Linked DNA regions of Homo sapiens: all the other regions are linked to region 1. Evidence: fine-mapped QTL for protein levels in blood plasma. A gene starts in region 1. Each other region holds a variant in brackets. All regions are shown on one strand. Distances are from middle to middle.

What was found. PIP is the chance, under the fine-mapping model, that this variant and not a neighbour inherited with it causes the effect. Protein levels are from the aptamer-based SomaScan assay of Sun 2018.
Region 2: its variant is fine-mapped to the plasma level of the SIRPB1 protein (Sun 2018, PIP 0.95).
Region 3: its variant is fine-mapped to the plasma level of the SIRPB1 protein (Sun 2018, PIP 0.95). The variant lies in the coding sequence of SIRPB1. If it changes the protein, the assay may bind it differently, which can mimic a change of level.

What each region holds. Positions count from the first base shown.
Region 1 is chr20:1,616,449-1,624,630 of GRCh38, reverse strand. SIRPB1 (signal regulatory protein beta 1) reads left to right here and starts at 4,622. Exons shown (of 6, transcript NM_006065.5): 1 at 4,622-4,762. The coding sequence starts at 4,687.
Region 2 is chr20:1,557,502-1,565,665 of GRCh38, reverse strand. SIRPD (signal regulatory protein delta) reads left to right here and starts at 7,961. Exons shown (of 4, transcript NM_178460.3): 1 at 7,961-8,085. The coding sequence starts at 8,013. It overlaps SIRPB1 (signal regulatory protein beta 1), which reads left to right. Exons shown (of 6, transcript NM_006065.5): 6 at 169-4,281. It overlaps LOC107985409 (a long non-coding RNA gene), which reads right to left and starts at 7,659. Exons shown (of 3, transcript XR_007067493.1): 1 at 7,542-7,659; 2 at 5,001-5,121; 3 at 4,129-4,214. The variant G/A (reference allele first, on the strand shown) is at 7,147.
Region 3 is chr20:1,573,745-1,581,926 of GRCh38, reverse strand. SIRPB1 (signal regulatory protein beta 1) reads left to right here. Exons shown (of 6, transcript NM_006065.5): 2 at 3,233-3,589. Among named protein-coding and RNA genes, the nearest start is that of SIRPD, 20 kb to the right of the region's middle. The variant G/A (reference allele first, on the strand shown) is at 3,314.

The DNA.
Region 1 (8,182 bases):
AGAGATTTCTTGAATTGTGACCAAAATGCTGAGAGTAATATGGACCATGAAGTCCAGGCTGAGGAGGTCTCAGATGGAAATGATGAACTTCCTGGCAACTGGAGCAAAGATCGGTTTTGTTAAGTCTTGGCAAAGAGCTTGGAGGCACTGTGCCCCTGCCCTGGGGTTCTGTGAAACATTGAACTTGGGAGTGACAATTTAGAGTATCTGCTGGAAGAAATTTCTAAGCAGCAAAGCATTCAAGAAATTTCCTGAGGCGGGGCACAGTGGCTCACGTCTGTAATCCCAGCACTTTGGGAGGCCGAGGCGGGCAGATCACGAGGTTAGGAGTTTGAGACCAGTCTGGCCAATATGGTGAAACCCCATCACTACTAAAAATACAAAAAAAAAAAAAAAATTAGCCAGGTGTGGTGGTGCATGGCACACACCTGTAGTCCCAGCTATTTAGCAGGCTGAGGCAGGAGACTCACTTGAACCCGGGAGATGGAGGTTGCAGTAAGCCAAGATTGCACCACTGCACTCCAGCCTGGGTGACAGAGTAAGACTTTATATCACACACAAAAAAGAAGAAGCAGTTACCTCGCTGCTTCTAACAGCCTAATTCATATGCGTAAGCACAGAGATGACTTGAAACTGGAACTTATATTTAAAAGGGAAGCAGAGCATAAAAGCTTGGAAAATTTGCAGCCTGGACATGTGGTAGAAAAGAAAGGCCCATTTTCAGGCAACGAATTCAAGCAGGCTGTGAACTTTGCATGAGTAAAAAGAAGCCAAATGCTAATATTGAAAACACTGGGAAAAGCCTTCAAAGGCATTTCAGAGACCATCTCTTTACAGGCACAGAGGTCTAAGAGGGAAGAATGGTTTTGAGAGCCAGAACCAGGGCCTGCTGCCGTGTGCGGCCTTCGGACACGGCCCACTGCACCGCATTCACTCCAGCTCCGGTCTTGGCTCGAAGGGGCTCGAGTATATCTCGGCTGCTGCTTCAGAGGGTGCCAGCCATAAGCCCTGGTGGCTCCATGTGGTGTGAATTCTGCAGGTATGCAGAGTACAAGAGCTGAGGATTGGGAGCCTCTGCCTAGATGTCAGAGGATATATGGAAAAGTCTAGATGTCCAGGCAGAAGCCGGAGCCCTCATGAAGAACCTCTACTAGGGCAGTGCAGAAGGGAAATGTGGGGTTGGAGCCCCCACACAATTCCCACTGGGGCATTGCCTAGTGGAGCTGTGAGAAGAGGGCCACCTTCCTCCAGACCAAAGATTGATAGATCCACTAGCAGCTTGCACCATGTGCGGGGAAAAGCTGCAGGCATTCAACACCAAGTATGAGAAGAACCGTGGAATTTGAATTTTGCAAAGGCACAGAGGTGGAGCTGCTCAGGTTTTGGGAGTGCACCCCTTCCACCAGTGTGCCCTGGATGTGAGACATGGAGTCAAAGGAGATAATTTTGGAGCTTTAATGGCTGCCCTGCTGGGTTTCAGATTGCATTGCATAGGCCTGTATTCCCTTTCTTTTGGGCAATGTATCTCTTTTGAAATGGGAGTATTCCCATTCAGATGGCTAAAGCCAATGCCTATACCCCATTGTATCTTGGAAGTAACTGACTTATTTTTAATTTTACAGGCTTATAGGTGGAAGGCACTTGCCTTGTCTCAGATAAGACTTTGGACTTTTGACTTAATACTGAAATGAGTTAAGACTTTGGGGGACTTCTGGGAAGGTATGATTGTATTTGCAATGTGATAAGGACATAATATTTGAAAGTGGGCAGGAGAAAATGATAAGGTTTAGATCTGTGCCACCACCAAAATCTCATGTTGAATTGTAACCCCCAGTGTTGGAGGTAGGACCTGGTGGAAGTTGGCTGGGTCTTTGGGTCAGATTTCCCTCTTGGTGCTGTTCTCATGATGATGAGTGAGTTCTCATGAGATCTGGTGGTTTTAAAATGTGTGGCACCTCCCTACTCTCTCTCTCCCTCCTGCTCTGGTCGTGTAAATATGCTCACTTCCCCTTCACCTTTTGCCATTTTTGTAAGTTTCCTGTGACCTCCCAGAAGCTGATACCAGCATTATGCTTCCTGTAAAGCCTCTGAAACCATCAGCCAATTAAACCTCTTCTCTTTATCAATTACCCAGTCTCAGTCTCAGGTATTTCATTATAACAATTATAGAAAGAACAGATTAATACATCCACCTATTTGTTTTTTAAACAATTTAGCACTAATTATATTTTTTCAAAATTCTTCTTTTTATTACTTTTCTCAGATACCTGTTGTTACTGCACACCTACCTATTCTTGTTTCACACGTGACTTTGTTTTATGGATTTACTTTCTTTTCATTATCTCTATAAGGTTACTAAATATGTTAATGTTAAAAATATTTTCACATTTTATATTTTTATTTTCTGAGGTATTATTTTCTAAGATGTTATTTTCATTGCTGTTTTTGTTTTTTAGTTATTGTTTTTGAATTTATTATGATGTCGCTTTTCCCCAAATCTTTAGTGATTACTGCTTTCACTGTAATCTTTACAGGAATAATGCCCTGAGTGATCATGGGCTGTCAGCACTTTATGGAACATGGCACCTATCCCAACCTTGCTGTGGAGGCTGCGCCTAATTGACGTTATGGCTTCTTCTCTGCTTCCTTCCTGAGAGATATCTCTCCCTTCTTATGAGAGGTGTCATAGTGAAGGCCATGGAGTGTGACAACCTGTGTTCTAGTTCTAAAAGCTGGGTGATGTTGAACAAATGTATTATTGCCTGCGTGCCTCAAGTTTCCTCACCTATAAAAAAAGGTTAATGGTAGTGCTAATTTCATGGGACCAGAGTGATGAATTAATGAGGTAACTGACAAAATGCTTGGCACAGTACCTGGAGCACAGGACATCTGCAGTAAACACAGCAGCTACTACCCTTCATGTCATATAGAGACTAGTTTCTTGTTTTAAAGTGTAATTTGGCATCGATTAACATGATTTTATCATTTTTATATTCATTTCTGTGAGTGTGGAGCAGGAGGTGATGATTTCACCCTCTGTGCATCTGCCACATTGAAAAAGAAATTTGCATGGAAATGTGATGACTTTTACAATTTCATTTGACAATTACTCATGATAGGTGAAGGATTGCAAGCCCAGCATGGGAAAGAGAGGTTTCCAGACAGGTCTTTCTTAGTCACAGATGATGGAGGAGAAACCATTTCTCCTACCAAGGAAATTTTTCTAAAGCACAAGTATGTCAGGGAAGCAGTGAACTCACCCTGTACACAAATGTAATTATAGCCACAATTTTTTGGTTATAATTAAATATGAATCAAACCTTCTGTATGGCTTATATTACTCTTACCATATCACTACAAGGTGCATGTTATAACTTCCATTTACATGTAATTAAGTTAAGGCTTAGAGAAGTCAAGTGTCTTGTTGAAAGTCACACAGCTGGAGATTGTAAGAAAAGGAATTCATCTACAGATTGACAAAAAGCAGGGTGAAGAGGATCCAGAGGGAGAAATTGATCTCAGAGTGTCAGAGGTAGACCAAGTACACCATAAAAGCTGGGTTCCAGAAGTCCGGGGAACATGGGAGAAGGCCACTGGTGGGAAACTCAGCATGCAGTAGAAATCCATTTAAAAGCAATATTTGAGTTCCCTCTCTTCACCTGGCACCATGAGTATCAATAATAACCTACTGAATCTCAGGGATGTATAGTCATTATCTCTTTTGATGTTCACTAAAACATGGCAGTGAGACTTATTATCCCAAGGTTAGAAGGCAAAACTGAACCTAGGCAGGCCCAGTAACTTCCCCAACTCCTTAGCACATCTTCTTAGGGTATTTATTCTCCCTCCCTCCTCAGTTCCCATCTGAAGACAGTGATGAATGGAATAGGTGTTCTATGTGCAGAGCAAAGAGTATTGAAATCGATGTGACTGCTCCAGGAATCTGCCCTCCATATTCTCCCCCATAATAAACATATCCCCTTTCCATAACCCATAATCCCCACCTCACCTCACAAAGCAGATCCTTATTACCCTAAGCCCACTTCCTCTCCTGGAAGAAGTCAGGAAATAATTCCTTCTGCTGGGTGCAGGCATATGAAAGTGCTAACGGCCACATGAGACTGAATTTGGGCTAAGTTTTGCCATTTATATTTATAAAAGTTCGGAATAGGGAACCATTTCAAGAGCAGACCTGTTCCTCTCCAACACTGAGCAGGTCCAGTGATCCCTCATCCTGCCCCAACTGAGTAGCACTTGGTTGAGGCTGTTGTAGAATGAGACCACAAGCCAACCACATCCTGAGGTCTTGAGATGGAAAGTTTAGGAAACATTTCATAACCACAGGTCCTTCCTGGCTTAAGAGCACCAAATGGCAAATCACCAAGAAGACATAAAGATGGGGTTAGGAGTCATGGAAGGAGTTAAGACCTCAGGTGGGAAGGAAGCATTATTTCTGCTAAGCCTGTCTGATTCTCCTGAAATGGGGCATGCATAACTGCTTGCATTGTAGCTGCTTGCTGTTCCTGATTTCTGTTTCACAATCCAGAAGCAGGTTACTGCTTCACTCCATCGCAGCCACTTCCTCTTGAACTAAGGGAGGCAGGGCTTGTCTTCTCTCCTCAGAGCAGAGTCTGCGATCTTCCCAGCACAGACGTTTGGACAGAGCAGGCTCCTAAGGTCTCCAGAATGCCCGTGCCAGCCTCCTGGCCCCACCTTCCTAGTCCTTTCCTGCTGATGACGCTACTGCTGGGGAGACTCACAGGTGAGCACTGCCTTCGGTTAAAATCTTTTTTCCTGCCCACTGAGCCATGGCCTGTCCCTGGACTTTCAGGGATTCCGGACAATGACAAGTGCTGCCAAGAAAGGCCAAGGATTAGGCTTTGACTGAGAGCAGAAAATCAGGGAGCTGAGCACTTTCTCTGTGGATCTGCAGCTGGCTACCAGAGGCATTGAACCACAGGACGATTCAACCACCACAACAACAATTACTTACATTTTGATAATATTTCAATTGAAAAAGCAGAGAAGAATCATTATCTAAATCCTCACCAGTCCTGAGGCCCTAGGGCCAAGTGACATGCCCAAGTCCACAGAGTAAGCTCAGAGACACCCTAACAGGGTTATGTGGCTCTAGGCCCAGCCCTCTCTCTTCACCAAACTGAGGATGTGAAGTCTGTAATAGTGCTCACTTGAGTAGGGCAGTGGTGTGGTGTATCCTGGGAGTGTTCAGCCACCATCCTCCCTAAGGGTGCTCCTCACTTTGTCCTCTGTTCCCCCATGCTCCTCCCTCCCCTGTGACCTGATTCTTACCACCCATTTCTCTGTGGCCTCTTCCTCTTTAAGAAGTTCCACATTTGCTGCTTACTGGGTCCTATATTCCTTTCCTAGGGCTTCCATAACAAAGAACTGCAGGCTGGGTGGCTGAAACTACAGATATTTACTTCCTTGCAGTTAAGGAGGCTGAAGTCCAAGATCAAGGTGTCAGCAGGGTTAGTTTCTACTGAAGTCTCTCTCCTTGGCTTATACAGGGCCATTTTCTCTCTGTGTCTTAAACACATGATCTTCCTCTGTGTGTGTCTGTGTCCTCATCTCCTCTTCTTATGAGAATATCAGTCTTGTTGTATTAAGGCCCACCCCAATGACCTCATTTAACTAAATTACTTCTTAAAGACCCTGTCTCCCAAACTGTAACGTTCAGAGGTGCTGGGGATTAGAGCTTCAACACATGCATTTTGTGGGACACATTCAGCCCATAACAGGTACTACAACCTCCTTTGGTTCTCTTAAATTTCCCATGGATAATTTCTTTCCCCTTCCCAAGACAGGCAGGATTGGAGGGCCTTTCCTGGTGCAGCCTGGGAGAACCCTGCTCACAGCTCCCAGACAAGTTACCTGTCCTGATCCCTTCTCAGGCCATGGAGCTGACCCCAGAACCACAGGGCTGGGCACAGCAGCCTCTCAATTCCCCACTGGGCCCTGCTGTGATGTCACCTCACAGGCCCTAGAGGGCAGGGGTCTCACTTTTCAAATTATTTTTCTCACACATACACTGTACCCAAATGACAGCAGTAAGAGTTTAACAATTGAGCTCTTCCTACCATGTAGACACAGTTATTAGCATTTTGCCTGTTTTAGCTCCACTAATCCTCACAACATCCCTGTGTGAAAGCTGCAACTATTATCCCCTATTTCCAAACAAAGACTCAGGCAGAGGGAGGAACTTGTCCATTCATTGTCCCCTACCTCAGTCAGTGGAGCAGCTGAGATTCAAGTCCAGGTCGACCGGCTCCAAAGTTCATTCTTTTAGTCGTGTTATGCTACTAGCAGAAATATTAGAAAATGCAGGGAAGTAAACATAGAATTAATTATTGCCTACCACACTTGTTAGCAACAACCAGAGTTACAACTGTGATGTATGTACTTCTAAATTTGTTATTAATGTGTTGGATGCTTTCTATGGGCCACATATTTTACTTTCTATGGGCCAGATATTTTAATGAGATTTTAACGTGTGTTGTAATTTTATTTAATACACAAAACAAACTTATATACTATCACAATAGGTCACACTTTGATATATATTTGTGAATGTATATGTGTGTGTCTATATATACATATATATGTGTGTGTGTGTATATATACATATATGTGTGTGTATATATATTTGCAAATGTGTGTATACATATGTGTGTATACATATGTATATGCATGTATGCATATAAGTAAGTGTACATGCACACACAGGAGATTTCATTTTTTATCATTGTTTCTCCAAGTTTCTAATTTCAATGAAACTTTTAACAAAATATTTTATTTTTATTTGACAGAACTGTATATACTTATCATGTATACCATATTAATGAAATATGTGTACATTGCAGAATGCCTAATTTGAGCTAATTAACATATGACCTACCTTGTATATGTATCATTTCTGTGGTGAGATCTCTCAAAATCTGCTTTCAACAATTTTTGAGGTTACGAATTGTGTTATGAACTCTAGACCCCATATTGTACAATAGATTTGTGGAACTAATTTCTCCTAACTAAACTGAAATTTTGTATCCTTTGACCAATATCTCTCCAAATGCACCCCCTGCCTAGTGCCTGGTAACCAATATTCTACTATCTACTTCTATGAGTTCAACTTTTTAAAATTCCACATATGAGAGACATTATGCAGTATTGTCTTTCTGTGCCTGGCTTATTTTACTTAGCATAATATCTTCCAGGATCATTTATATTGTTGGAAATGATAGGATTTCCTTCTTTGGTCAGGCTGATTAGAATTCCATTGTGTATACCAATTTCCTTTCTCCATTTATCTGCTGATGGACATCTAGGTTAATTTAATATCCTGGCTATTGTAAATAATGCTGCAATGGACATGGGAGCACAGATATCTCTGTGACATGCTTATGTCATTTCCTTTGGATGTATGCCCAATAGTGAGATTGCCAGATCATATGATAGTTCTATTTTTAATTTTTTGAGGAGCCTCCATACTGTTTTTGCTAATGGCTCTACTAATTTACATTCCCACTAACTATGTGCAAGAATTCCCTTTTCTCCACATCCTCTCCAAAACTAGTTATCATCTTTTTTATAGTAGCCATTCTAACAAGTGTGAGATGATAGCTCACTGTGGTTTTAATTTGCATTTACCAGATGAATAGTAAGGCTGAGTATTTTTATAGGTCTGATGGCCATTTTAATGTCTTCTTTTGAGAAATGGGTTTTAAGATCTTTGGCCCATATTTTAGTTGGGTTGTTTTCTTAATATTGAGTTGTTTCACTTCCTTATATATTTTGTATATTGACTTTTCATTAGATGCATGGCTAGCAAATATCTTCTTCCATTCTGCTGGTTGTCTTTTCACTCTGTTGATTGTTTCCTTGGCTGTGTAGAAGCTTTTTAGTTTGTTGTAATGCCGTTTGTCTATTTTTCTTTTGTTGCCTGTGCTTTGGGACTCATATCTGAAAATTCATTGCCCACACCAATGTCATGGCACTTTTCTTCCAGTACTTTTACACTTTTAGATCCTACACTTAAGTCTTTAATACATTTTGAATTGATTTTTGTGTGTCATGTGAGAGGAAGGTCTAATTTTATTCCTCTACAGATGGATATCCAGGTTTCCCAATGCCACTTTTTGAAGAGACTGACCTTTCCCAATTGTGT
Region 2 (8,164 bases), 59 kb after region 1:
GGCAGAGTCCTATCTCAGGTCTGCCTGTCCACCCATAACAGGCATCCCAAGAGGAGACCAGCACTAGGGACATATCAGGCTCTCAGGAAACATTTCTTAAATGATGAGCAGATGAATGAATGTGGATGTGTTTTCCAACAGCTCCTTCCTTCCTTCCCTGCCATGTAGGACCCTCAGTCTCTGCTGCCTCCTCCTTTCTTGAGAAGCTCAGCCTGAGAGAAGGAGCTGGCGAGAACCTTCCCCACACTCAGCTCCAAACGCCTCCTCTCCCAGGTCATCTGCCTGCCCACACGCTCCTGTTCCACCTTCACAAGACCATGATGCCCCAAAGCAGTGTCTCTATTCACGGTCCTGAGCAGGGGCCATGGGATTGGGCTCTGGGCACTGACTCATGGCACCTCCCTAGAAGGTGAGAAACACTCCAAATCTAAACACACCAGGACTTCTCCCATCCGTCGCCTTGGGACTGGCCATAAACCACAGACTCTCTCCAGGCTCTCAAGAGTTATCCTGTCTTCTGGATTCCTGCCTACCCCAACTCCCCCAGCCTTGTTGAGGTTCTCTACTGCCTCCTGAATACACATGAACCCCTATACCAATTTTAAGAAAAAAATGATTCTCTTTCCTCTTTGTCCAAGCATCCTATCCCTCAAACCCAAAAAGAAAGAAGCTCTCCCTTCTCTCTCTGTGATGGAGACAGTATTTCTTCTAGTATCCTGCAGCCTTCCCAGTCCTGCTGCTTGTGGTAGAAATGCTGCCACAGCCCAACATTGAGGAGCCCTCGATGACTGCCCTTTACAACTCATATTCAGTTCTGCCTCCAAAATGCATGTGTCCACTTACATGAGATGGTAAATGTTTAACAATGGACTTTCTGAAAGGGAAAAACCAAAAGCTGTTTTGCAGTGCTTGCCAATTTCTCTAGTGTAATAACTCCCAACCTGACCAATTTCACACTGCCAACAGTTAAACAACCAGATTGCAAGATTCCTGAAATTTAACAATTGGTTTTCAGGGCCCAGTCCAAGCCTGCTGCTGGAAACCTCAGAGTTAAATCCCTATTCTCCACACCTCTCACCTCCACCACCCCTCCCTGTCCCAGCCAGCATCATCTCTTTGGGGACCACTCCTCTGGCTTTCATTTTTCAGCCACAGTGATTCTTTGGAAAAGTCAAATCATATCACTTCTCTGCTTCTTCCCCAACACAGCTGCATGGCTCCCGCTCTCCCTCCTTCAAGTCTCTGCTCAATGTCACTTCATTAAAGGCACCTTCTATAAACTACCTTGTATAAAATATTATTTATTTTCTCTATCCCGGCATTCTAATTTCTCTTATCCTAATTAATTTTTCTTTAGCCCTTATTTTGATGAGTATTATGCCGAATACAGGCAGCCCTCACTTTTCATGGCAGTGCAAGATTGCAAAAATGACTGTGCAACCTGAAACCCAGGAAAGCAGTCTCCATAGTCAATCAGAAAAACAATGATCATTCTGTGACCTTTACCATTTTTTGTCAAAATATTAGAAACTCTCACACTCTCAGTTACAAATGTAGAGGACAATGAAAATATAATGAAATAAATATTTATTTGTGCACTACAATTCAAAGCATTAGAAACATTGAGAGTTCAAGTGCTGTTTCTTTGTAAAAATGTATCCAGAGTAGTTGGAAGAGTGCTTGCCTTTTTTTGTATATTTCTAATATGGAGTGATATAGTTTGGCTCTGTGTCTCCATCCAAATCTCATCTTAAATTGTAATCTGCATGTGTTGTGGGATGGGCCTGGTAGGAGGTGACTGAATCATGGGGGCGGACTTCCCCCTTGCTGTTCTTGTGATAGTGAGTTCTCATAAGATCTCAGTGAGTTCTCATGAGATCTGGTTTTTTGAAAGTGTGTGGCAAGTCCCCCTTCGCTCTCTCTCTCTCTCTCCCTCCTGCCACCATGTGAAGAAGGTGCCTGCTTCCTTTTCTCCTTCCACCATGGTTGTAAGTTTCCTGAGGCCTCCCAGTCATGCTTCCTGTTAAGCCTGTGGAACTGTGAGTCCAATTAAACCTCTTTTATTCATAAAATATCCAGTTTCTGGTAGTTCTTTATAGCAGTGTGAGAATGGGCTAATACACGGAGCAAGCATTGTTTCTTTTCATTTGTTTATTTTATTTTTATTTTTTTGAGATGGAGTTTCACCCTTATTGCCCAGGCTGGAGTGCAATGTCGTGATCTTGGCTCACTGCAACCCCCGCCTCCAGGGTTCAAGTGATTCTCCTGCCTCAGCCTCCTGAGTAGCTGGGATTACAGGCATGTACCACCACACCCAGCTAATTTTGTATTTTTAGTAGAGATGGGGTTTCTCCATGTTGATCAGACTAGTCTTGAACTCCCGACCTCAGGTGATCCACCTGTCTTGGCCTCCCAAAGTGCTGGGATTACAGGCATGAGCCACCATGCCTAGCCAGCAAGCATCATTTCTATTATACCTTGGTGTTTTGCCATCTTTCTAAGTTTGGACTAGCTTCCAACATCTTATCCCTTGAATTTTCAATATTGTGGAATCACTCCAGAAGATCCTTTCATGTGAAGTTTTTTGCTGGCATTTCAACCTTTGGGACATCTTCAGCCCTTTTATTACCACTCCTCTCCCATTTGTGGCAGTTTGCGTTTACTACCTCCCTCTGGCTGCCTATCTGAAGTTCCTGCATCAGGGTCTACATTGCCACAGTCAACTATTTGTACTTCTAGAATTCCACTCACATTCAATTTGAACCTCACTTGCAGCATTTTCACTTCTCATTTCTTCACTGCACTTTCATCTTGGTTGCAAAATTCCTCTTTCAATTATTCATTTCTGTAAAATGTCATATGGGCTCATCACTGGGAGGCAAGGAGGCAACCCAACTATAGGATTTGCTGTTTGAGTAGGAGAGCCATAGGGACCAATCACCAACAGACTTTGAAAGACACAACATGACTGGTTACTGATCATGACGAGCTTTTATTACCATGGTGATTTGTGGACTGAAGAGCTAGCCCAGAAGTTTGTACTCTATGCAAATTACATTAAATTTACTATGGCACCTAAATTTTGAGACTTGTGTTGTGGGACTGATGTTACTTAACTAAACTATGGTAAGAGAAATGCATGCATGTCATCACCAAAGTGAGAACTGCCTGTATTTATCTATGTTACGCAAATGGAATGTCAGTTATATCGTGGGGGGTTGGGGGTGGGGGAGGATTATCTGTATCCTCAGTTGCCAGAACTGTGTCTGCCATATAATAGGCTGTCAATTTTTTTAAATGAGTGAATACATCATTGAGGTCATTGGTTTCTACTAGGTGTTGGATTTCAAAAGAAAACTTCTCTTCATTTGATCACTTGGCTTGTGTGCTGTATTCTCAAGCTCTTTCTTTAAAGACTACTCTCTCTTCTTTCTGTTTAAAACATTCCATCAAAAATTCAACATCCTCTAGAAAGTAAGAAAGTGCTAACAAGAAAAAAAAGTCAACCCCAAAACCAAAACCCACAGTGACTGGAGTACATCAAAGAGGCGCAGGAACCAACTGAAAGAGCTCCCAAAGGCCAAAGCTGGAACACTTTCAGCAAAAAAATAAGTAAAGTAGTAATGAGTTATAGTCCAAAGTATAAAATAAATATCTGAGTCCATACTGATATAAATAAATGATTGAATAAATTAATGGGAAAGAAGAGAAGAATCTCCAGTGCAGAAGAGTCCCAGATAATTTATTTATACACTCCACTCTAAAGGAGGTGGAACATAACTTCCACTCCTGAAGTGTGGGCTGTGCACTGCGACTTCTTTGCAAAGAGTACAGCATGGAAAAAAGGAGAAAAAATAACTTTACAGTGGAAAAATCTGACAAATACAGCTTCAGCCAGGTGATCAAGAGTTCATCAACAGTTATAAATCAACATCAAGAATCATAAATCATGTCACTAATATGTACCTTTAATATGATGTGATGAAGATGACACTTTTCCTCTATTACCTTCCCCCCAAAACTCACAACCCCAATCTAATCATGAGGAAAACATCAGACAAATTTCAATAAGGAGGCATTCTGCAACATCGGGCCCAGAACTCCTCAAAACTGTCAAGGTCATCAAAATCAAGGAAAGTCTAAAAAACTGTCATAGCCAAGAGAAGCTTGAGGAGATATGACAAGTAAATGTAACAGGTATCCTGGATGGGATGCTGGAAGAGAAAAACGACATTAGGTAAAAAGAAAAGATCTAAATAAACTATGAACTTTGATTAATCATAATGTATCAATATTGGTTCATTGATTATAATAATGTATCATATCAATGTAAGATGCTAATGATAGGGCTCAATTTTTCTGTAAATCTAAAGCTGTCCTTAAAAAATTAAGTCTATTAGAAAAAATTAACGTCTTGTCCTCAGCTAGGTTTTATTTGCCTCTTGTACCCCGTGGGGAACAATGCAAGGAAATGTGCGGTAGGGAGACTTTGTTGATATTCCAAAGTTTTATCTCACTTCAAAAGCCTGAGGTTTCCTTTCCTCTCGTCCTTCCTCTGTCCACTACCAGAGCTCACCCCAGATCTAGGCACTCAGATCCCAGAGGAAGTGGCTTCTCAATCCCCCGTGATGCTCACCCTAAACTTTTCCCATTAGTAAAATCCAGGTCAGACCAAGTGGGATCAGAAAACTTTGGGTTATGTGGGTGAGCTGGGATAGCTTTGAGGACCTGACTATGAGTGAGTGAATAATGTCCTGAGCCCAAGTCTTCACAGGAACAAGTTGTTCCCATGAATTGTGTAATGGATGCTGAGAGGCACCTGGCTGTGGAGATGGTCCTCAGCATCAGCTCTATTTGCGATTGTCTCAGCTGAAGGGAGTGCCCTTGCTTAGGTCGTATCTGGTAACAAACCACATCTCATTGGACTCATCAACCTAGTCGTATAAAGGCCCAGCTCTCTTATCCTAACTCAGAGCAACTCTGGAGGAATATCCTAGTACCAGGCTCCATGCAAGGTCAGCTGAGGTCTTCAATGGGACTTCATTGCAGCCCAGCTTCTTCTTCTACCCAGTCCTGCTTCCATCTTCTCCCGTCCACAAGTGTTGATCCTAAAAGTACTCCCTGAAAGATAACCTGCTTGTTCATCTTCACCCCAGAGTCTGTCTCCCAGGGAACCCAACCTGGGACAGTGAAGCTATGCTACGTATCAGAAAGGTGGGGATCCCTTCATCTCTAAGGGAGCAAGTCAGTCACAGAAGAAAGCCTTGTTTATAGTACCTCCAGATTAATGAGAATCCACAAAAATGTTTATTCAAGAGAGGGACATAATTAAATCTATGTTGTAAAAAGACCAGTCTGGCTGAAGAAGGAGAAAGAGATTATAGGGGGCAAATAAAAATGGGGGTACCCTAGTGAGAAGGCAATTGTTCTTATTCAGGCAAGAGATGATGATAGAGATGGAGAAAGAGATTAATTCAGAAGGGATTTAGGAGGTAAATCCAATAGGGCCTGGTAGGGGCAAGATAGGAGTGTGAAACTATGCCCCCAAAGAGTTAAAGAAACCAGTCACTAAGAAATTCTTGAGTTTACAGGATAGCAGATAAGAAAAAAAAAAAATTGCTAAACTGCCGAAACTTCCTCCACTTGTAGGATAACAAAACTGACTAAAATCTGTTGGAACCAATATGGCCAACTGGAGTTTGCTCAGAATGAGCTTGCTGATGTCACAGCCTGAGTTTCTACCACGTATTTCATGATGACGCCCCAGGGTTTTGCACATGGGAGCCGTGAAGAGGCATAGAGAGATAACTGTACATGCCCAAGGACTTTCCAGACCTCCCCTTTCCTTTCACAAATCACATACTAATCCCAGAATCCAACCCCTAAACTTTTGCTAATAAAACTACTGCCTTGAAGCCAGCACATGGAGCTAGATTTGAGGTAGACTTCTGTCTTCCTGTTAGTCAACTTGCAATAAAAAGCTTTTCTTTTCTCAAAAGCCTGGTGTCACAGTATTGGCTTCTAGCACATCAGGCAGCAACCCCCTTTCACTTGGTAACAAGTGGATAAGTGAGGGTATAGAACATGAGTCCCTTCCTGGTTTGACAAACTGCTTAGATGATGGTACCATATACAAAACAGGCATGGTGTGGGAGAAGATAAGGTTTGTGAGTGCAGATCTGAAACTCAAACTTGAATATTTAAGGTATACAAAGAGGCCAGGCTCAGTGGCTCACACCTGAAATCCCAGCACTTTGGGAGGCTGAGGCAGGTGGATCATCTGAGGTCAGAAGTTCGAGACCAGCCTAACCAATATGGTGAAACCCTGTCTCTATTAAAAATACAAAAATTAGCCAGGCGTGGTGGTGGGCGCCTGTAGTCTCAGCTACTCGGGAGGCTGAGGCAGGAGAATCACTTGAACTCGGGAGGCAGAGGTTGCAGTGAGCCGAGGTCATACCATTGCACTCCAGCCTGGGCAACAAGAGCGAAACTCTGTCTCGAAAAAAAAAATACATATATATATATATATACAAATGAAGATGTCAAGAAGGTTGCAGAATATACAGGTCTGTATCATGGGCCCAAGATTACTCAGCTCTTAGGAGGTGCGTTCAGGATTCTAGCCTAGATTATATCTGATTCCAAAGCTGGCACTCTTGGATACTGACCCGTGAGTACTGACTCTCCAAGGAACTTAGAGTCTAATGAAAGGTGAGAAGATTCCTCAGAGTAGGGGAAGGGGAGGATGATGGAGGCTGGAGGAATGTTCCTGTCTAGTTCCAAGCAGGGGCCATGGATAGGAATTCCTTTGTGGAATTCATCATTTCAGAACAACGGGATAGGATGATGACATCACAAGGGGATGGGGACTCTTGTCGTCTCAGAGAGAACGTGCCAGCCTGGCTCTGCTTTCTTTTCCTAGAGGGTCTAACACCTCTCCCGGCCCTGACATCTAGCTGGTTCCTGAGGAGGAGGCAGAAGTCATGAGGAGGCAATGGGGAAACAGCCATGGCAGCCAGTGCCTGCCTGTGGATGCTTGGACATTAAAGGGTCACCAGCTGAGTGTGGGCTGAGTGTCCCTGAACACAACATTTGTGCTTAGGAAGAACCCATTCCAGAGCTGAGAGAGAAGGATGCCAACATGCT[G/A]CTTCCTCCCTCTTTCTGGGGGCATTTCTTCTGCCCCTCCAATCCCATCTCTGAGAGCTGGTCCCAGGTCCAGCCCAAGCAGGAGAGGCAGCCCTCACCTTCCCAGGTGTTTGTAGGCATGTTACTCTCCCTCCTAGAGAGTGTTCCCCGCAGCTCCGCCTTCCCTGCAGGCCTCCTCCATCCTCTAAAGCACAAATCATCACCACCTGCACAACTCGAATGTCTTTCTCAGCCATGCCTGATTCCTCTGCAGGAAGGAAAAAGGAAGCAGTTCCTGGTAGTGTATGGAGGGACCCACAGAAAAGCCAAGAGCCCACAGCAGATATTGCTTGTTTTTTACCTCTAACTACTCTGGAGTGCAAGAAAGGGCATCCATTGTAAAGTCCAACTCTTACCAAGTGGGTGAGGCTATAGACATCTTGTCTCTTTCTTCAGCTGTGCAGCTCAGACAGGCCCAGATGTTGAGCTCATGCAGGAGCTAGACCCATACCTGCGCATCATGTGGATGAGGCCTTTGTCTAGCCTATGTGTCTGAGGCTCCTAGATAGGCAAAGGCCATGAAGTTGGGGAGAACCTGTGAGATGGGATGAAACTCAGGAAGGAGTATAAGGCTGTGGGTGTCAAGCCCCCCAGCCCCAGCAAAGCTAAATACTTCCAGCAGCAACTTCCTAGCTTGAAGCAACCTTGTCTGTTCAATTTTATAATCACAAAGGAAAAAGTGTCCCAGTCCCCTGGCCTTTCCTCTCATCACAATCCCCTTCCTCTGACATCACAGAGGCAAGAACTGTCTTCTCTGCTCGGAGCACTGAGTCGAGGGCATCTCCAGGACAGGCATTCAGGCAGAGCAAGCTCCAGGTTTCACCACAATGCCCATCCCTGCCTCCCCACTCCACCCACCTCTGCCTTCCTTACTGCTGTATCTGCTGCTTGAACTGGCAGGTGAGTGGGGCCTCAGTGTATGTGTGTGGTGGGTTCTCCCCTCTGCCTGTTTAGTGAACTCTCCCTCACCTGTTCCCAT
Region 3 (8,182 bases), 43 kb after region 1:
TGGATGTCATTATTGATATTGGAACAGGATCCTCGCTTCAGGATGGAGAGCCATGGCAGCACTCCAAAAGGCAACACAAAGCTGTACATAGCATAGCACAAGAAAGTCATCAGGGTAAAAAGCCTTCTCAAATTGTGGAGCCAATCAGAGTAGCAAATCAGTAAGTCATGAGTCAAAGGCATTCCCTAGGAACTTTCCACCTGAGTTTAGAATGATCCCATCCTCATTGCCATTACTATAGAAAATGTTAGAGTGACTCCTGCTGGTTGAATCTTAGAGGATCACTCTAACATGGCCATGAAAAGTTCATATGAAGAGGCATACTCACAGTTCCTAGAGACAGAAGTAGGGCAGGCCATGCAGGAAGCCATGTGGAAGGAGCTCCCAAGGAGCAGGCTCAATCAAGCAGATGGGTAGGCAAGAGAGATGGGATCCCTGGGCAAGTGCCTTTACTGGGAGTCAAGGTGGAGGACACAAGCAAAAACACTTTTACTAGAGTGTTTCAATGTCACTAGGTCACAGTAGGGGAAGACAAGAAGAGGAATTGTGGCAGGGACCAGCTTTAAAATACTGGTTACCTGGTCACCTGGGCAGGGTGCTCACAGCTTGTTTGTGGGATATTGAAGCATGATTTTTAAAAAATGTACACATAACTGGATATCTTTATTTCTTCATACAACTTTGAGTTGCCATATAGCATCCTTTCATTTCCACCTGAAGCACTCCCTTTAGCATTTCTTGTAGGCAAGGTTTAATGGTCATGAACTCTGTTAGCTTTTGTTTATCTGAGAATATCATAATTTCTCCCTTGTATTTGAAGGACACTTTGCCAGGTATAGAATTCATGATTGACATGTTTTTCCTCTTTCAACATTTTGAACTTACCATCCCCCTATCTTCTGGCCTTCGGTGCATTGCATAAGAGCTGAGCTGAAAATCTTATTGAGGGTCTCTTGTATGGAAGAAATCGCTTCTGTCTTGCTGCTTTAAGGAGTCTCACCTGGACTTTAGGTGTCAACATTTGGATTATAATGTGTCTTAGTGTGGGTCTCTGAGTTTATTTGTGGGTTCAACTTGCGTTTCTTCTGTGTCTTCAATTTGTAGATTCCTGTATTTTAACAAGTTTGTGAAGATTTTTGTCCACTCTGTTTTCATATAATCTTCTATTCCTTTCTCTCTTTCTCTTTTTTCCCCCTGGAACTCTAGTAAGGTGTATGTTGATACATTTGATAATGTCTCACAATTCCCTTAGATTCTGTGCTCTATACTTTATTCTATTTTCCACCCACACCTCAGTCTCAATAATTTCAATTATTCCATCTTCCAGTTTTCTGATTATTCTTCCACCGGCTTATACCCATTGGGGGGACCCCTCTAGTGAACTTTTAGTTATTGTACTTTCAATTCCTAAGTTTCTGTTTGATTTCTTCCTATAATTTCTCTTTCTTTACATTCTCATTTTGTTAAGACATTTATATTCCTTTAGTTCTTGGTCCGTTATTTCCTTTACCTCTCAGCATTTTTAAGGCAGTGATTTTAATATCTGGGTCTAGTATCAGGGTGGAGCTAATACATCACAAGGGTGCTTATAAGAAGGAGGAAGATTAATTCTTGGAGAAGGACATTGAAACATCCTTGTATTCCAGGATGTTTGCAGGTGAAGATGCAAGAGGTTAGAGTGGTGGGAAGATGTAACTGTGAGAAAGGGATGGGAGAAACCTCTAGAATTTGGAAAGGCAAAAAACAGAGCCTCCAGAAGACACACAGCTCTGCTGAAAGCGCCTTAAAAAATGTAGACATGGAAGGTGTAAAACATGGTGCTTTCATATATGTATACATGTACATATACGTAGTGAAATGGTTATTAAAGTTAAGCAAATGGACACATCCATCATCTCCCATAGTTATGCTGCATGTGTTGTATGTCAACAGCACCTAAAATGTGCTTCTTAAGCAAAAATACTGAATTCAATACAACATTATTAACTAAAATCCTCAGATTGCACATTCATTCTCTGGACTTCTTCCTCAGACTTATCACAATTTTGTGTCTTTTGACCTCCCCATCAACTCCCCCAAGTTCACCCCTAGTCACCACTGTTTTATTCTCTATCTTTGTGTATTTGACGTTCATCATTTCTTCTTCATTGTACCCCAGTAACACTATTTTGGACTTCTAACCTCCAGAACTATAAAATGTTACATTTCTTTTAACACACTAAGTTTTGGTAATTTGTCACATCAGCATTAGGAAACTTAGGTAATGTGATTATGCTATGGGTGAAAAATTACCAGGGGCTTAAAACAAGGTTATATTTCTACTGGAAGCTACATATTCAGTGTGGATTGGCAGTTCTGCATGCAACGGTCATTCACGCATCCAGGCGATGGAGCAGGCCCTATCAGAGCCTCGTGGTCTCCGGAAGGGAGAAATTGATCCACAGAGGCTCTTGCAGTTAAATGCACAGCCCACAAATTATACCCATCATTCTGCTCATAACTCAAGGGTCTAAAGAAGTCACAGGGCCCCACCCAATCCAGTGATACAAAAAGTGCCACACTCCATGTACCACAGAGTGGAGGCCATAATTGGCAAAACATGGCACTTCCGAGGAGGGCTCAATAGTTCTACTCAGGTCCTCAACCCAAAGCTCTACATTGAAATTGAACCTCTTGGCCAGGCGCGGTGGCTGACACCTATAATCCCAGCAATTTGAAAGGCCAAGGCAGATGGTTTGCTTGAGCCCAAGAGTTAGAGACCACTGTGGGCAACATGGTGAAACTGTGTCTCTAGAAAAAATACAAAAATTGGCCAGGTATGGTGGAATGCACCTGTGGTCCCAGCTACTTGGCAGGCCAAGGAGAAAGGATCTCTTGAGCCTGGAAGATTGAGGCTACAGTGAGCTGTGATTGCACCACTGCACTCCAGCCTGGGCAGCAGACAGAGCAAGACCCCGTCTCAAAAAAGAAAAGAAAAGAAAGCAAACAGAAAGAACAGAAGAAAGTAAGGAAAAGGAAATTGAACCTCTCTGTGCCTCAGTGTTCTCGCTTGTATTACAGTCTTACGTCACAGGCCAGTTGTGAGGGTTAAATGAGATAATACATGTAGTGGGCTGAGCTCAAGGCCTTTTCCTGGTGTGCACCCAGTCAATGAAAGCCATTGATAAACACTTGAGGAAACACAGAGAATCAGGTAAGGATGAAGAAATGACTGCTTTGTGCTCCTTTCCAGGAGTGGCAGGTGAGGACGAGCTACAGGTGATTCAGCCTGAAAAGTCCGTATCAGTTGCAGCTGGAGAGTCGGCCACTCTGC[G/A]CTGTGCTATGACGTCCCTGATCCCTGTGGGGCCCATCATGTGGTTTAGAGGAGCTGGAGCAGGCCGGGAATTAATCTACAATCAGAAAGAAGGCCACTTCCCACGGGTAACAACTGTTTCAGAACTCACAAAGAGAAACAACCTGGACTTTTCCATCAGCATCAGTAACATCACCCCAGCAGACGCCGGCACCTACTACTGTGTGAAGTTCCGGAAAGGGAGCCCTGACGACGTGGAGTTTAAGTCTGGAGCAGGCACTGAGCTGTCTGTGCGCGGTGAGTACAGCGTGGGCCTCCTTTGTCCCCTGGTGTGTGACAATAACTCAATAATTACATTATCCATTCTTGGAGCAACAGCCAGGTGTGGTGGTGGCTGAGCAGCCACCCTTTCATGAACTGATGTCACCCTTTCTCCAGATCACATGAGTTGAGGCTTGGAGATGTCATGGCAGTCGCTCGAGGCTCCACGGCTTGTAAATGATGGGACAGAAGGCATCCCCAGTCTGCGGCTCTACAGCTCTTGTGTTTCCAAAGCTGACCCAGCCCTTTGGTTCCACAGATGAGGGAACTCACAATTTGAGTGACTTGTCCAGGCACAGGGCTGGACCTTGCCTTCTGCCTCCAGAGAATGCTTCCCCCTCAGGGTGGCCAAGTCCCTTCTTTATGCAACAGGCAGTCACTGAGACCCCACTGTGTGCCAGGCTCTGCCCTGGATGCTGCGCAAACAGCAGTGAATGAAACAGCCTAAAGCGCTCCCCCACCAAGCTTACATTCTCTTCCCTTCTAATGAGGAGAAATCCGTCCAGGGCATGGAGAGGGTAAATCGTGGTTGTTTTTTTTTTTAATTTAATCTTCAGAAACACCCCACGGGGAAGATTTCTCGGAGGCACATTCACGGTTGAATCTGATGGCTTGGTGGGAGGAGATGCCAATATGTTTGGCATTTGCTGTGGGTCTATTTGGGAAACCCTTCTGTGATTTGGGGACTGAGTCACAGAGTTACCATGGGCTCCGAGCAGAGCTGCATCATCTCAGAATGTCCCTCACCTCAGGAAAGAGGTCCCACAAGTGGGTGACTTAGGGGTTCCCCATATAAGGTAGCAACAATGCTTATGTGGGGTTTCCTGCCAGAGCCCCAAAAGCCTCGTCTTAACTGCTGAATTCTGGCATGTCAGCACAGGAAGGACCTTCAGACCATCCAGCCCAACCCCCTTTACAGATGGGAGACTGAAGCCAAGACATGACAGGGGCCTTGTCCATGGTCACAGGGCCAGTTAGTGACAGAATTGGAGCCAGAGTCCATATCTGAATCGTGGCAGTCTCCTTCCTTCCCCAGCATTAGACGCTGTCTCCATAGAAGAGCCTGGTGCATCATAGGTGCTAGATAAAAGTTCCCCAAACAGAGCCAGGTGTCAGAGAGCCAGCATTTCTCTTTTCATCAGTTTCCCAAATGTTAAGAATGCACCTCACATTCAGATACTAAAGCTCATTGGTGACTAGAAAACTTCTCCCAAATGTAAGCCCTGTCATTTCATATCGAGATTCCACATCAGGACATAGAGAACTGCTCCAGTTTTTTTACAGCTGAAAAATACTCCAATTTATGGAAATACCAAAATTTATTTTACAGTCTTCTGTTGATGGATATGTAAGTTATTCCCAACATTGAGCTACTACAACAATCATGCAGTGGATGACCTTGTACATGTGTCACCCTACTCAGGTGGGAGATTCCCACTGGAAGTGGTGTTTCTAGGTCAGAGGATAGTGTGTTTTCATATTTGAGAATATTGCCTAATTTCCCTTCTAGATGATGTAGCAATCAGAGATTACAGACTTGAGCTACCATGCCTGGCTAATTTTGTATTTTGTAGAGACAGGGTTTCTCCATGTTGTTCAGGCTGGTCTCGAACTCCCAAACTCAGGTGATCCACCCGCCTCAGCCTCCCAAACTGCTGGGATTACAGGCGTGAGCCACCATGCCTGGCCCCACTTCAAACATTTTTAAGACAGTGGTTTTAACATCTGGCTCTAGCATCAGGGTGGACACAATACATAAGAAAGGTCCTTACAAGACAGAGGAAGGAGATTAATTCTCAGAGAAGGACTTGTGAGGATATAAGCAAGAGGTTAGAGTGATGGGAAGATGTAACTGTGAGAAAGGAATGTGGGCAGCCTCTGGAATTTGGAAAGGCAAAAAAACAGAACCTCCAGAAGACACATAGCTTTACTAACAGCTTTTTAAAAAAATGTGTATATGTAAAGCCTAAAACATGATGCTTTCATGTACATGTATGTACATGAAAATGTACATTGCTCAGTAATGACTGAAATCAGCTCCCCACAACCCTTGAACTTAGACAAGGAAGGTGGCTTTATCCTGATTGTGCAGATAATATTGGCAAAGACACTGAAATGCCCAGGTGGTGCCTCCCCAGCCCAGGCAGCCACAGCCAGTGGTGGCTCAGGTGTGACTCAGATCTGCTCACTCCTAGTGAAGTACTCACTCCTCTTTGCCATGCTCTCGGCCTAAATGATGAGCTACATGAGAAAGGAGGGAGGTGGGGAAGGGGGCCAGAGAGCAGCAACTGTGCCAGAGTCTCCTTATAACCAGTGCTATGAGGGAGAAGCCATTTGCTACCTCCTTTAAAGATGAGGACACTGAAGCTCAGAGAGGAGACCTGACTTGGGAGCAGGTCAGGGAGCCAAGGCTGGAACCCCGCAGCCTGACTCACAGCCTTTGTCTTTGTGACACTCAACTGTGGTTTTTCAAGAGTGGAGAAATGCTCCAACCTTCTCTTTCTAAACTCTTGCATTGTTCAGTTCTACAGCAAAAAGCATTAAAAACAAAACAAGAACCCTGTAGGGGTAGGAGGGCCTGTCTTCACACTCCCATCAGAAAGGCCCTGCGCATGTCTCATGATATGCCAAGCCGGTTCCTAAAGGACAGGTCTCAACACACATGAGGCATTTAGGACTCTTCCCCCATGTTGTGTTGTTTCCTCTTCACTCAGCAGCGTCCAATGAGCAGAGTCGAGCCTCCTGCAGCCCAGCAGAGCACGTATCTGCCCGTTCATGGTGCTGAGGACTAAGGATGAGGAGATGAGGCATTTCCTAGAGAGTGTTTGGGGCCCATGTGAGCAAGAGTTGAGATTCTCCCCTCCGGCTGTCAGGAGCCCACTGTCTTTTGCTTATGGCTGCAGGGTAACCAGGCCTGGGCACCCAGGAGGGAGGCTTCTCCCTAACATTGCATGAAGTCTAGAATCTCAAAGGGACAATTGAGGTGGCAGTCAGTGTTGGAGCTCAAGAAGTTAGAACACTTGCTCTGTTAATGGACATAAGTGCTTGGTGGGACACAGGAAATGCCCACTGGGACACATGGAGAATCGGGAGACAGTGCCTTCATTTTGTTCAGCCACGGCATCTTCATCTGTAGAATAGAGACAATCATGGACTCCTTTAGGAAAGTCGTAAGCGTAAGGTTCTCTCTGTAAATCACCTAGCACACTGTAGGCACCCCCAAAGTGAGGTGTTATTTCAAGATCGTGTGATCTTGGGCCAGTCTTGCCTTCCCTTGAGTCCTCGGTTTCCCCATCGGTGAGATGCTGATTATCATGGCCTATTCTGGGTTCTGTGAGGATTGGAGAGGATGTGCACAGAGCCCCTAATGGTGGTGTCATTCAGGTTATTACTGAGCTTCTGCAGAACTGTCGTTAGGAGAACACAGGCAGTATCCCAGCTGCCTGGGCCTCTTCCCGGCTCTGCCACTTCCTGGCTCTGTGACCTGGGACAAGGTGCTTCACCACCATAGGCCTCGATGTCCTCACCCTTTGATGGTAACACTGACCTCACAGACTGGGCCGAGTCTGAAGGAGTGATATTGTGTAAAATGCTTAGGGCATCAACAAGCACACAGTAAATGCTCAATAAAGGTGAGTTGTGTTAGGGTGAAGCTGTGTGACCTCAGACAGGTCAGGGCATCTCTAGGCCCCAAGTATAAATGGGGTTTGGGTTGGAGTCCAGTGGCTTTCAACCTTGGCTGCTCATTAGAATCATTGGGAAAACTATCAAAAAAAAAGTTTGCAAAGCTGGACCCAGGAACCCCCCTAAAATGCCAATTTAATTGCATCTAATTTGGGCCTGGATATCTAAAGTTCTTAATGGCTCCAGAAGATTCTCATACACAGCCCCCTAGCAAAAGCGGTGCCCCAGGTTTTGGGGCTTTGAGAACAGCTTTTTGGGTCATGGGTGCTTCAAAACAGCCATTCTGGAAACATTCTGGGAGGCCCCAGAAGCCTGAACAGGACCCCTCCCATGCTACTGGCCTCAGGGCCCAAGATAGGAGACTGGGACAAAGCCTGGCTCAGATGCAGCCTCAGGGCTGGGGAACCTTCTGTCTTGAAAACATTTGTATCTAAACACGTGCTGGAGTCCCAGCAAATCCTCACTCCTCAGCCCCAGAAGCCTCCCTCCCTCAGCACTCCCAGATGTCACTGAGGTATCTTTTCCCTCCTTCTTCCAAAATGCTTCCAGCTTCCCCTGTGATCTTACTTGAAAGCCAGTTCGCCAAACATGGTGGTTGCTGCTCCTTTTATCATTTGGGTTTTTTCTGGCAGCTGCGGTGAGTAGGGTTTGAGCCTTTCCTTGGTGTTTGTGTGCCTCTTTGTTCTGTTGCCTAAAGAATAGCTATGCAGCTCCAGAAGCAGTAATGACCAAACCTCATGATTACAGTCACAGGGGTTATTTATTAAGCACCTACTACATGCCAGGCTATGCCCTTGCACTTACCCTCACTCATCTTCCCAGGGTGGGGTTTCTATCTACTTTTGGCCCTTGGCCACCAAGGATCCTCTCAGAGTCTCGCCCTAC